Regions from separate parts of the Homo sapiens genome. Here region 2 is linked to region 1. The links come from fine-mapping of genetic effects on plasma protein levels. A gene starts in region 1. The other region holds a variant in brackets. All regions are shown on one strand. Distances are from middle to middle. Region 1 holds the start of PLCB2 (phospholipase C beta 2). Region 2 overlaps PLCB2 (phospholipase C beta 2).

What was found. PIP is the chance, under the fine-mapping model, that this variant and not a neighbour inherited with it causes the effect. Protein levels are from antibody-based Olink assays in UK Biobank. Linkage for the fine-mapping came from a reference panel and not from the study's own genotypes, which makes the PIPs less certain.
Region 2: its variant is fine-mapped to the plasma level of the PLCB2 protein (UK Biobank, PIP above 0.99). The variant lies in the coding sequence of PLCB2. If it changes the protein, the assay may bind it differently, which can mimic a change of level.

The regions. Positions count from the first base shown.
Region 1 is chr15:40,305,708-40,311,066 of GRCh38, forward strand. PLCB2 (phospholipase C beta 2) reads right to left here and starts at 2,228. Exons shown (of 32, transcript NM_004573.3): 1 at 1,882-2,228. The coding sequence starts at 1,965. It overlaps LOC112268152 (a long non-coding RNA gene), which reads right to left. Exons shown (of 3, transcript XR_002957721.2): 3 at 4,330-5,075. RefSeq lists a silencer at 4,358-4,561.
Region 2 is chr15:40,289,516-40,294,846 of GRCh38, forward strand. It overlaps PLCB2 (phospholipase C beta 2), which reads right to left. Exons shown (of 32, transcript NM_004573.3): 19 at 4,751-4,905; 20 at 4,045-4,209; 21 at 3,411-3,510; 22 at 2,824-2,928; 23 at 2,549-2,643; 24 at 2,334-2,409; 25 at 2,091-2,135; 26 at 1,750-1,972; 27 at 1,503-1,668; 28 at 1,246-1,322; 29 at 1,062-1,157; 30 at 510-567. Among named protein-coding and RNA genes, the nearest start is that of ANKRD63, 9.1 kb to the left of the region's middle. RefSeq lists enhancers at 1,792-2,337, 2,338-2,882. The variant T/C (reference allele first, on the strand shown) is at 2,925.

The DNA.
Region 1 (5,359 bases):
TGTCCTCCAGAGAAAGAATCAGCTTTAAGCTTCTGCCAGGCTCAGAAAGCATGAGCCAATTTATGACAGCACCTGTTTAAATAGAACTTGGTTACCCCTTTCCCACCTCCCTCCCTATAGCTCATGCCTAGAGGGGCCTTGAGCAGGACCAGCAGGGAATCCCACCAAGGCCCTTTCCAGGGGGCCTGCAGCCTACCTGAAACCATTCCTAGAAGGAGAAGGGTAGAAGATGTCAGTGTAAATAAAGGTTGGAGTTTTGATTATAGCCAGTTTCTGACATCGGACTGGATTTTGTGATGAAAAGTGACCACTGGACTGTGTTACCTGAGAGTAAATATAATGTCTTGTGGCCTTGCAGAGTTTCTTTCCATGGCCAGGGGGAGAGCTTCTCCTACCAAATATATTGTAAAGAGGCCATGGGAGATGAAATAAAGTTGGGATTTGCTTACATCCTATGTATTCTGCTTATTCAACATGGCACAGCACACCCATGCCATCCACTAACTGTGCCAAAAGCAGCCTGAAAGCAGAGCCCTGTCTCACAGCAGCATGGACCTGTGGATAGGCTTGGGACATTCTTGCTTGTGCAGGTCAGGATCCAGAGAACATCCAATGCCCTACCTTGGAGAGGGGAAGGGAACAGCCAGGTACACAGGTGCCAGCTTAGGAAGAAGGACAGTCTCCGCTGGCCACCAACCCCCGACCTCCACTGCCACCCTGTGACCCTCTGCCCAGTCAGGTTACACACACTGCCCAGAGGAACTGAGAGAGGCCACTTCGCTTTTCATTCTGAGCCACTTCCCTCATTCCACAGGCTCCTGGGGCATGTCACCTCCATGCCACTGCCATGCTACACCAACCCCACATCACTCCTAGGGAAGCAGGAAGCATCTCACCACAGGGCCCCAACCCATAGTCATGGGCAGCGAGATCCCCTAGCCTAGCCCAGCCCCGAAGGGCCTAGACCCAGACCCCCTCATCCCACCTCCCATCAGGTGGACAAGTCAGCACTAAGGGCTGTCTTCCCTCCCCCACCAAGCCTTCATTTCCCTTCCTGGGACAAGCCCAGCACTCTAACTCTCAGACTGGGCGAGCCCAGCAGCCTCCCCTCCCTGAAGGAGAATCTCCATATTGTTCTCTCCAGCCTAAGAGAATCCCTGGCCTAAGGTAACATTTTCAGGGGCCAGGAGAACCAGAGCCTGGGAGCAGCCCCGTGTAGGAAGGAACAGACACAGCAGAGAGAGGGCTGCAGGGTGCAGCAGTGTCTTCCCCTTCCCTTGCTGACAGGCCTGCATCGGGGAGCAATGCTGAGCCCAGCAAGGGGTAGCAGAAGTCAAATCAGCTCCTTCCCTGGGAGCAGAAGCCTCTAGTTCTCACTTAGGTCCAGGGGCCTTTTGTGGCTGCCCCCACAGCAGCGCAGGGGAGAGCAAGGCTTCCCTGGACAGGATGATGCCCAGTGGAGGGGGTGAAGGAGCTGGGTCTGAGCGCCCTGCCGGAGCAAGGGCAAGACATCTGTGCTGGGAGCGGGGACGAGCTCACCTCTCCTCCTAGCCTGCCTCAGCTCTGGGGTGCACTTTCCTCCTCTTCTCTTGGGGGTTTGAAGGAGAAGAGAAGCAGACCCAAATAAACTACCTCCAGTGACCACCCAGGCAGCTCACCCACTTCTCACACCTAGAACCAAGGCTTAGCCCTTTAGCTGGGGACATACACCCTTAATCCCAGGTTTGTTTATCCAAGCAGTGGTGTCAGCTGCCTGGCCAAACCACACAGGCGCCTGGATCCTAGGAGACATAAACCAATCCTCCCACCCAAGCAAAGCCCCGTAGCAGCCCGGCCCCCACCACCTGGTGCTCCAGCAGCTGAGGCCCCTGCCCCACTTACATCATCCCATTTGATGAAGCGCTCCCCTTGGCTCAGATAGGCCTTCACCTTGGGGGGCAGCAGGACAGGGTTGAGCAGAGACATGGTGCCAAGCGTTCCTCTTTGCAGAATCTCAGCAGACACAGGCAGGCAGAAGGGCAGGAAGGAGGCCAGCCAGGAGGGGGAGCCAAGCTGGGCTCAAATGGCACCCATCCCCGAGCTGCTCCAGAAATCTAGTTGCTCTTATAGCCCCTGGGGTGGCCCTGGCTGAGTGCAGGACTGAGCTGTAGCCAGAGGCCCATCTGCCTTGTAAATCACCCTCCTCCCACCCGCCCTGCCTGCCATGGGGGCCTGTGGTCACTGCTTCTGCCCAAGGAGGCTGAAGCAGGAAGCCCCCGCCTCTTCTGGAGGCCCCCGCCCCCACCCCCAGCCCCACCCTGTGCCTCTCAGCACTTCCTGCTCTGGGCTTCCTTCTCTGCGCTGCTCACAGCGGAGACGTGGTCATGAGGCCGGGTCGCCTTGGAGCCAGGGCCTCTCAGTCCCTGTGGTGGTCTCTGGTCAGATTTGGCCCAGGAGGGCTGGAGAAGGACGACATGGAGACCAGCTGGGGAGACTGCTGCCCAGGCCTGGACTGAGGGAAGGCACAGGGAGCTCACTAGGAGAAAGGACCTCCTCAGGGGAAGGGTCCAGAGCATGGGCATCTGACCCCAAAGGTTGGGAGCACCGTAGAGGCAGGGGTGGGGTGGGGACAGGGCCCAGCTGGAATGGAGTGTTTTGAATAAGCAAAGTTTGCTGAACACACGGCTCCTCTTTCTCAATGCTTCCTCCCCCATGAAAATGAGGTGCACCTGCCGGGCGGGCGGGTGCGGTGGCTCACGCCTGTAATCCTAGCACTTTGGGAGGCCGAGGCGGGCGGATCACGAGGTCAGGAGATCGAGACCATCCTGGCTAACACGGTGAAACCCTGTCTCTACTAAAAATGCAAAAAATTAGCTGGGCGTGGCAGCGGCGCCTGTAGTCCCAGCTACTCGGGAGGCTGAGGCAGGAGAATGGCATGAACCCAGGAGGCGGAGCTTGCAATGAGCCGAGATGGCGCCACTGCACTCCAGCCTGGGCGACAGAGCAAGACTCCATCTCGAAAAAAATAAAAAAAGAAAGAAAATGAGGGGCACATGAGGCAAGGCAATCACTCCCCTCACCCACCTCACCAGACTCCCACCTCTGGGCCTCTGGGACTGCCTGAGGCCTGGACCCCCACTGAGCAGCCCTAGCCCCTGCCTCCACTGCGCTCTCCTCTCTCCTCCGTGTGCCCGCCTCTGCTGTGTACCCCAGCCTGCAGCGGGGCTGGGGCGGAGGGATGGCTGCTCTGGTTGGCCAGGCTCAGCCCCAGCTGCTCAGGTGCCTGACCCACACTCTGCCCCAGGCCCAGGGAGTTCAGCACCAGTCCAGCTCAGCCCAGCCCACTTCCTCTTGCCTAATCTGCTCCTCTTATCGCCCTTCTTAGCCCAGCCTGGGAGGCAGGGAGCTCTACCCAAGACTTCCTTCCCCTCTGGGGCCTGGCCTTTTGCCCTGGGTCACCCCCCCATGGGGCTTTGCATACCCCCAACAACGGTAAGACCCTCACCCAGGCCCTAGAATTGTCGCGGCTGGAGGTCTGGTCCAGGGCAGGGTGGAGGGTGAGGGAGGACACTCTTCATGCGGAATTAAGATAATAAACTGCCCAGTGGAGGCTGGAGCTAAGGGAATTCCCAGCACAGAAATAATCTGCAGAAGAGCAATTCTAGGGCCGGGGGATGGAGCCGGAGCAGGGCCTGACCAAGCCTCTGGAAATGGTAACAATTCAGAGGACTCTTCTTCCTCGTTTCCCCCAGTCCCTTAGCGTCATCTCTCCTCTCTCCCTCCCTCCAGTCTGGGGCCCTTCTGGGGGCCCCTCTGGCAGCCCATGCTGTTCTGGGTTCCTCCCTGGGATCAGGTTCCCTCGATATCTGTTTGAATGGATTTTGCAAGGGAAATCCCTGTCCCTTCCCAAAGCCCCTGCACCTGTCACCTGCGGCTGCCCTGGTCCCGGCACCCAAGTCCCTCCCTTTCATCTGTCCTGTAGCCATCAGCCCCCTCTCCACTTTGGGCCTGGAGAGACCAGTCCATTCCTCCCCCTCAGCCTGAGGAGGAAAGGGACAGCCTCCTCTCCTCATTTCAGGATTTCAGGGCTCCTCACTCTGTTCCTTTCCATCTCCAGCTCCGAATCCACAGAACAAAGCCTTGCCCATCTTTACTCAGTGATGTCACTGCCTGCACTGTTCTTGGGACCACAACTGTAGCTTCAGTGGGGGCCTGTACTCTCCTGCTCACATCCTGACCTCCTGCAAAGCTAGCTCCAAAAATGCAGAAAATCCAGGCAGTCAGGAGAGCGGAAAATCTTCATCAAAGAGCTTTTTGCTTTTAAAAATACATTTAGGTTTGAAAATTTGTGTTGACAAAGAAAAATGTTATGTAAATAATAGTAGAGAAAATCAGGGTAGTTACATGAATGCCCCGTTTGGGAAATGTGGCCTTGGGCTCCTGGGCTGAGCTGGGTAGAGGGCAACCCTGCAGTGGGCCAGTCTCACCCCTCCAGGGTGGGCAGTGGAAGGGCAAGGATGCCCCCTGCTGGGTGCACTCAAAGCATGCATGTCCTGGAAGTTGCGGTTGGGTCTGTCATTTGTGACCCACGGGAACACCTATGCCAGAGAGTTTGGCAAGTGGGAGCCTTGGGCCATAGAATGTGGTAAGAACTTATATTCAACCAAATGTTGCCTCCCACAAGGGACATGCTTGTGACCTGGACCCCAGCACATATGTCCCAAGTTCATTTGTTCACTTGCCAGTGCTATGTGGGAGCCCCATGCATTGGTTTCCCAGTTTGCTCATCAGAGAAGTTTAATGGCAGAAGTTGAACTCAGACCTTCAGGTGCCACAGCTGCCAGCCAAATAAGAGGATCAGACTAGGTCGGTTTCTTATCTGATGCCATGATGGTTGAAGCAGTGGGTTTCAGGAGTGTGGAACCCTGTTGTCCATCTTGGTCAAGGGCTGGCCCTCTTTTGGAGGGAAGATGGCTCTTATGGTGTCTGTTTCCCAGTCTGGCAAAGGGAGCCACACTCACCACTCTAGGAACCCAGCCACTTACTAGCTGGTTTATCTTGTGATACTTAACCTTCTTGGGCCTCAGCCTTCTCACCTGTAAAATGGGGATAATAATGCCTCATGGGGATGTTGCAAGGATTAAAGAATATAATGAATGGTACTTAATACAGTGCCTACACATGAGCTCAATAATACTATCATTATCATTATGAGTTATCATTGTTATTTTATTATTACTTATTAGCAGACACTGACAGGAAAAATGGCAGTTTCTTATTCCTTCTTCAACAGTTCTTTCTACAAACGTCTTCACTGACTTTCTCTTTGGATTTTTCTTCCAGCAGTTCGTGTGGATCAGGGGCTGTACCCACCTTTGCA
Region 2 (5,331 bases), 16 kb before region 1:
TCTCACTGGACTGTAAAAGATTATACAAGACAGCTCATGTGAGGCACCTGGCAGAGTGCCTGGCACAGGTCAGGACCCAGTAGGTGGCAGCTGTGTTCTGTGGTTAATGATCCCTAGGGGAGCTTCAGGTCCATTATTCCTTGGCACCTCAGGAAGCTTCCTCACTCCCTCTTCATCCCCTGACCCTCGCCAGTCCCAGCCTCCCCTGGCCCTGATATGGGCCAGTTAGCCCATATCATTTCCACACATGAGAACTGGCCAGAGACAGATCCCTTCAGGCTGGTACCCCAACCTCCATACACAGGCCAGAACCCCAGGATGTCCCCTGCCACCCCAGCTGCATGGACAGCGCTAGGCAGTGCATCTCCTAAGGGCAAAGTCAGGGCCTGGGGCCACCCCTTCCTACTTGTGAAGAGAGAGAGAGAGAGAGAGAGAGAGAGAGAGAGAGAGAGAGTGTGTGTGTGTGTGTGTGTGTGTGTGTGTTTAGGAAGGACACAGCCCTTACACACCTGCTTGATCACCTGCACTACTTCCTGGATGTGGGAGTTGTTAATCTCTCTCTTCAACCTGTTGGTGTAATTGGAGTTTTAGAAAAGGGAGAAAACCCCTAGGGAGAGTAGGGTAACATGAAGTCTACGCAGGATGTAGGCAAATGAGAAATCCAACATAGGGCAGGAACCAGCTGGGGGCAGGTGTGGGGACCCAAGGAGTATGTAGGGGCCACTGGGAGTCCTGGGGCCCTCTGAGGGAACCATTTCCCCATCAAAACACACTGTCCTTCCGTGGGAAACAGTGCCACCACAGTGGACAGGCTACAATCCCAAGGCCTCAGCTCCCTCCCTGCAGGCTTGGCTGCCTCCAGAGCTCTGCCCATGTAGTGTTGGCCTCCGTGTTTTGTCTGAGGAGGACACTCTGATCAAAGGTGACAGGGGGGATCCGCTTTTTGGAGAGCCAGGGGACAGATGCATCTTTGGGAAGTGAGTCAGGATCCATTTGTAGAGAGGCCCCTTTCCACCTGAAGTGGGGTCTGCCCAGCCCTGGGCCTCCCCTCCAGGGCTCACCTCTCCTGGGCCATCTTGTCTGTGGTGACTTTGGTCATGCCCTGGATCCGCTCCAGTCTCTTTGTCTCCAGCTTTTTCTTCATCTCTTTGGTGTCGCTGCAGAGAGACAGGCATGAAGGAGCTGTTTTGTGCGGCTGAGCCCTTGCTGGGAGGCGAAGCAGGTGTGGGAGGGAGGCAGTCGTACTTCTCCGACGTCTCCTTCAGGGCCTTCAGCTCTGCCGCCTGTTTCTCTCTGGCCAGCTCCATCATTTTGGAGATTTGCTGCAGGGAGAGGAAGTAAGCTTGGCGAGAAGCCCTTTGTTGTTCAGAGGGAGTACGGGGGGCGGGGGTCGGTGGAGGGGAGTCGGTGAGGGGGTTGGGTCGGTGAGAGGGGCGAATGGGGTCCATGGGGGGTGGGGTCGGTGGGGCTGGTGGGGTTGTCGCCCTGCCCCTCCCGGCCACCTCGGCCACGTGCTGCTCCTTGCGCTTCAGAACGCACTCGTACTGCTCCTCGCCCTGCCGCAGCAGCTCCAGCTCCAGCCTGTCTTTCAGCTCCCGCACGCGCCCGTCCACGCCCTCAGGGCCCTCGCCCGGCGCGGCTCCGGCGCTCTCCTCGCGGGGCAGGCTCCTGGGGAGGCCACGTGGGGACAGGCCCTGAGATCCTGCGCCACCCGCGCTGCAGAGGGCAGGGCACCGCCACGAGCCTTACCTCTTCTTGCGAGAGCCCTTGCCGGGACCGAGCTTGCAGGCCCCGACGCCCCCCACGCCCGGTGGCCCGAGCTCCGCCAGCTGCGCCGCGCCCCGCTGCAGCAGCTCCTCCCAGCGCCGCGCTCCGCGCCGCTCCAACTCTCGCAGCTCCTTCTCGTGCCGCCGCTGCAGCTTCACCACGCCCTTTAGCTCCCGGAGCTCCTCCAGGCTGGCGGTCCGCGGCTCTGCGGAGGCCCGGGTGAGGCGCAACACCGGCCAGGCCGTCCTGCCCGTCCAACCCCCAAGGAGCCCCGGACCCGCCCCAGGCTCATCCCCGAGATCACCGGGCTCAGCAGGCCTTACCCGCAGCTTCTTTCATAGCCTCTTCCCTGGCCCCGGCCCTGGCTGCTGCAAGAGCCACGGGCTGGGCTGTCAGGTGCTCTGGGGGGCCCCTTGGCTCCGTTCGCCTCCTCCACACCGCCCCCTGGGAGTCGCAGTATGTGCCCCCTGCCCCGCACTTTCCCTAGGTGAAATTTTTTAAAGGGAAGTGCCTGTGGGTGCAGAGGTGGAGGTGCCCCCAGTAGGTGTGCGGACCGAAGCTCATACCTGGTGACCCATTGCTCGTTGGGGCCAACGCCCCATTGACCTGGCTGGCAACTGGACTCGCCAGTGGGAAGGGCTTCTGTGTAGGGAGAGCAGGTCAGGAAGGTGGCTTGACAGCCCTCTCTCCCCGAGCCTGGGACTCGGCCCTCTCCCCAGCCTCTCCCATAAATAGGGCTAATCTCTGGTGAGCCCCTGGCAGCAGTGCAGGCAACACAGACCTCAGGCAGACCTCCCATGGCCTCCTTGAGCTTCACAGACTTCGTGTCATGGGCACTGAAGAACTTAATGGGGTTGGCGAGGGCCACAGTGAGATCTGGGTGGGTGCACAGGACATTACAACATAGTGTATATGGAGATGTGGCTGGAAGTCTCCCCTGTCCTCACCCACTCCAGGATGCCCCATCTGGATCCCACCCCAACTCTGGAAGCTGGCTTGATGGGAAGGAAGGGGGAACAGACACCCCGAGGCTCCTGGCATGCCATGGGCTCCTACCTGCCCAAGCACCAGGTATGTAGTCCTTCATCTCCAGGAAGATGAAGAGCGCAGGCATGGTGAGGGGCATGTTGCTCTCACTGTGCAGGCACAGGTGGTGG[T/C]ACCCTGTGAGACAGGACAGGGTAGGCAGTGAGCCAGAGCCCGTTCCTGCCAGCACTGTGCACACACAGCCTAGGACCCAAGGGTCTGAGTCTGGCACTGCACCATCCTGGCTGTGTGACTTCAGCCAGGTTACTTTAACTCTCTGAGACTTTACTCATCTATGAAGAGGGGATGAGTGTCTACTCATGTGGTTATTGTGAGGATGAAGTGAGAATGTATTATAAGCCCTTAGCAAATTTTAAATGCCCATAAGTGTCAGCTACTTGAGAAACTGCCCCAGCCGTTTCAGAAAATTACAGCAATTCTGTTAGGTGGGCAGAGTTCCCGCCTCTCTTAGGTTCCTGGAGAGGTACTGTTCTGCCCTACTCCTTACAATGTGAGGGCTTAGGTAAGGCCTCACTCCAGGCCCCCTCCCAGAAGCTGCCCCACCCTGTGCACAGGCTCCTGCTGCTGATCTTGGAACAGTGAAGGACCCCACTCCTTACCAGAATTTAGGGCATTGATGGGGATGATGCGGTGTCCAAGAAACTTGTTGCCTTCCTCCATCACAGCCACTCTGAGGGAGGCCAGCTCAGGCATCAAGATCTGGGGAGAGTTGGGGACATGACAGGCTGGGAGGGGAGAGAGGAGCCAAGCTGACCCCCTCCCTGGCTCCAGAAGTCTCAGCATCAGTGTGAGAACATGGTGAGTGTCACCAGATTTGGTGAGGACAGACAGAGGGCACACTCTAGGCCATATACAAAGACATCCCCACAGCACATGCCATGGCTGGTTCCACACAGGGGAGGAGGGCTGGATTTGCAGCCCAAGGCTGAGGGGGCCTGGCACAGATAGCCCTTGACAGCTTTGCCAGTGGGTATCCAGTGGGGCAAAAGACTCCCATGGGAACCTCAACCCTGAGTGCACATTTCTGCCTCTAATCTTCACACACACACACTCTGCCTACCAAGTAAACTTCTGTAAACTTGGGTTTTGCACTCTTGAAACAGGAGGGCCCAGGGTGAGGGATGGGAAGAGGAGGAGGAGGAAGGTCAAGGAGCTGCCTTGTTTACTTCCTCTTGTCTGTAAGTAGAGGCCAAGAACTAGACAGACTCTGCCCTGCCATGCCCTGGCCCCCACCTTCTCAAAGACAAAGGGCTCCTCCTTCCAGACAGGATTGATGGAGTTAGTACTGGGTGACAGCTTAGTTCGATAGCGCCTCTTGGGGTCCCCAGGAAGGCCAAACAGCTCCACTTCTACATAGGTGCGCACGCTGCGTTCTGACAGGAACTGCCCAGAGATCACCTGGGGGTAGGGGCCCAGGAAAACCAGCATCAAATCCCCACCCAGGCTCTTCCCCAAGCATCTGGGGCCCCTGGCTGCCTAGAGCTGAAGCATTCGTTCTTGGGTGTTATGAAGAACCTCACTCAGCTCTGGCCATGAGTAGAGAGGCTGTGTAGCCCACGGGTTACAGCTAAGCTCTGAGGACCAGGGTGCTTCTAGCATGAAGGGAAGAGGTGGGCCTCCCACCTCCCTCCCTAGCCAAAGAGGGAACAATGCCTTCCCCCAGGACCTGGGGCTCCGGCTGCCCCACTCTGCCCACTCTTCCTCCCCTCCCCCACCCCAGCCTCAGCCCTTCCCGTTGGTTTCCATGGGGACCAAGTGGCAGCCTCCAGTGCTGAGGAGGAGGCAGTTTCCAAGGCAACTTGCTACTGCAGGAACTGGCTGGGGCTGAAGTTTCCAGGATATCAGGGGAGGGGGTTGCGAGTTGAGTGAGGGGTGGGCTCCTGTGCCCTTCTACTCAAGACCTCAGCCTCCCGGCCACTTGTGTGCCCCAGGGCCTTGCCGTAATGGAAAGGGTGGTGGCCACCACCACGTCGATGCGGTCCACTGAGAAGGGGTTGAACTGCTTGTCCGGCCGGCGCATGAACTCATGCTTGAGGAGGTAGCCGCTCTGCCCGTTGAACTCAAATACTGCCATGTTCTGCTGCATGGGCAAGTCTGGAGGGACAAGGACACTCAGTGAGGAAGGCCCAGCCCTGGGGCTGTGCCCAGTCTCCATTTCCTCCATTCCCAGCCTTTGCTGTCTGGTGAATGGGGAGGTTGGGTGGACCGTGAGGATGAGGGCTTCTCCTGTCCCAGTCTGGTTCCTTGCAGTGTCTCCTCTCTTAGGCAGGGTCCACAGCCTGGAGGCAGCAAGGAGGAAAGCCACAGCCAGGCTGAGGGACTGTGGTGGGAGCTGGGGCAGCTGGGGCAGGTGGCCCACAGACATACCTGGGTGGAGCGGCCAGAACCCACGCCGGCAGCCTGGCATCTTTACATCCATCATGTATGCGCAGGCACATGGGCACAGGCTAATGCATTTCTACCCCCAAATTCTCACGCACCTGGGCATGCTCCCAGAGTCTACACTAACAGCAGGACTCC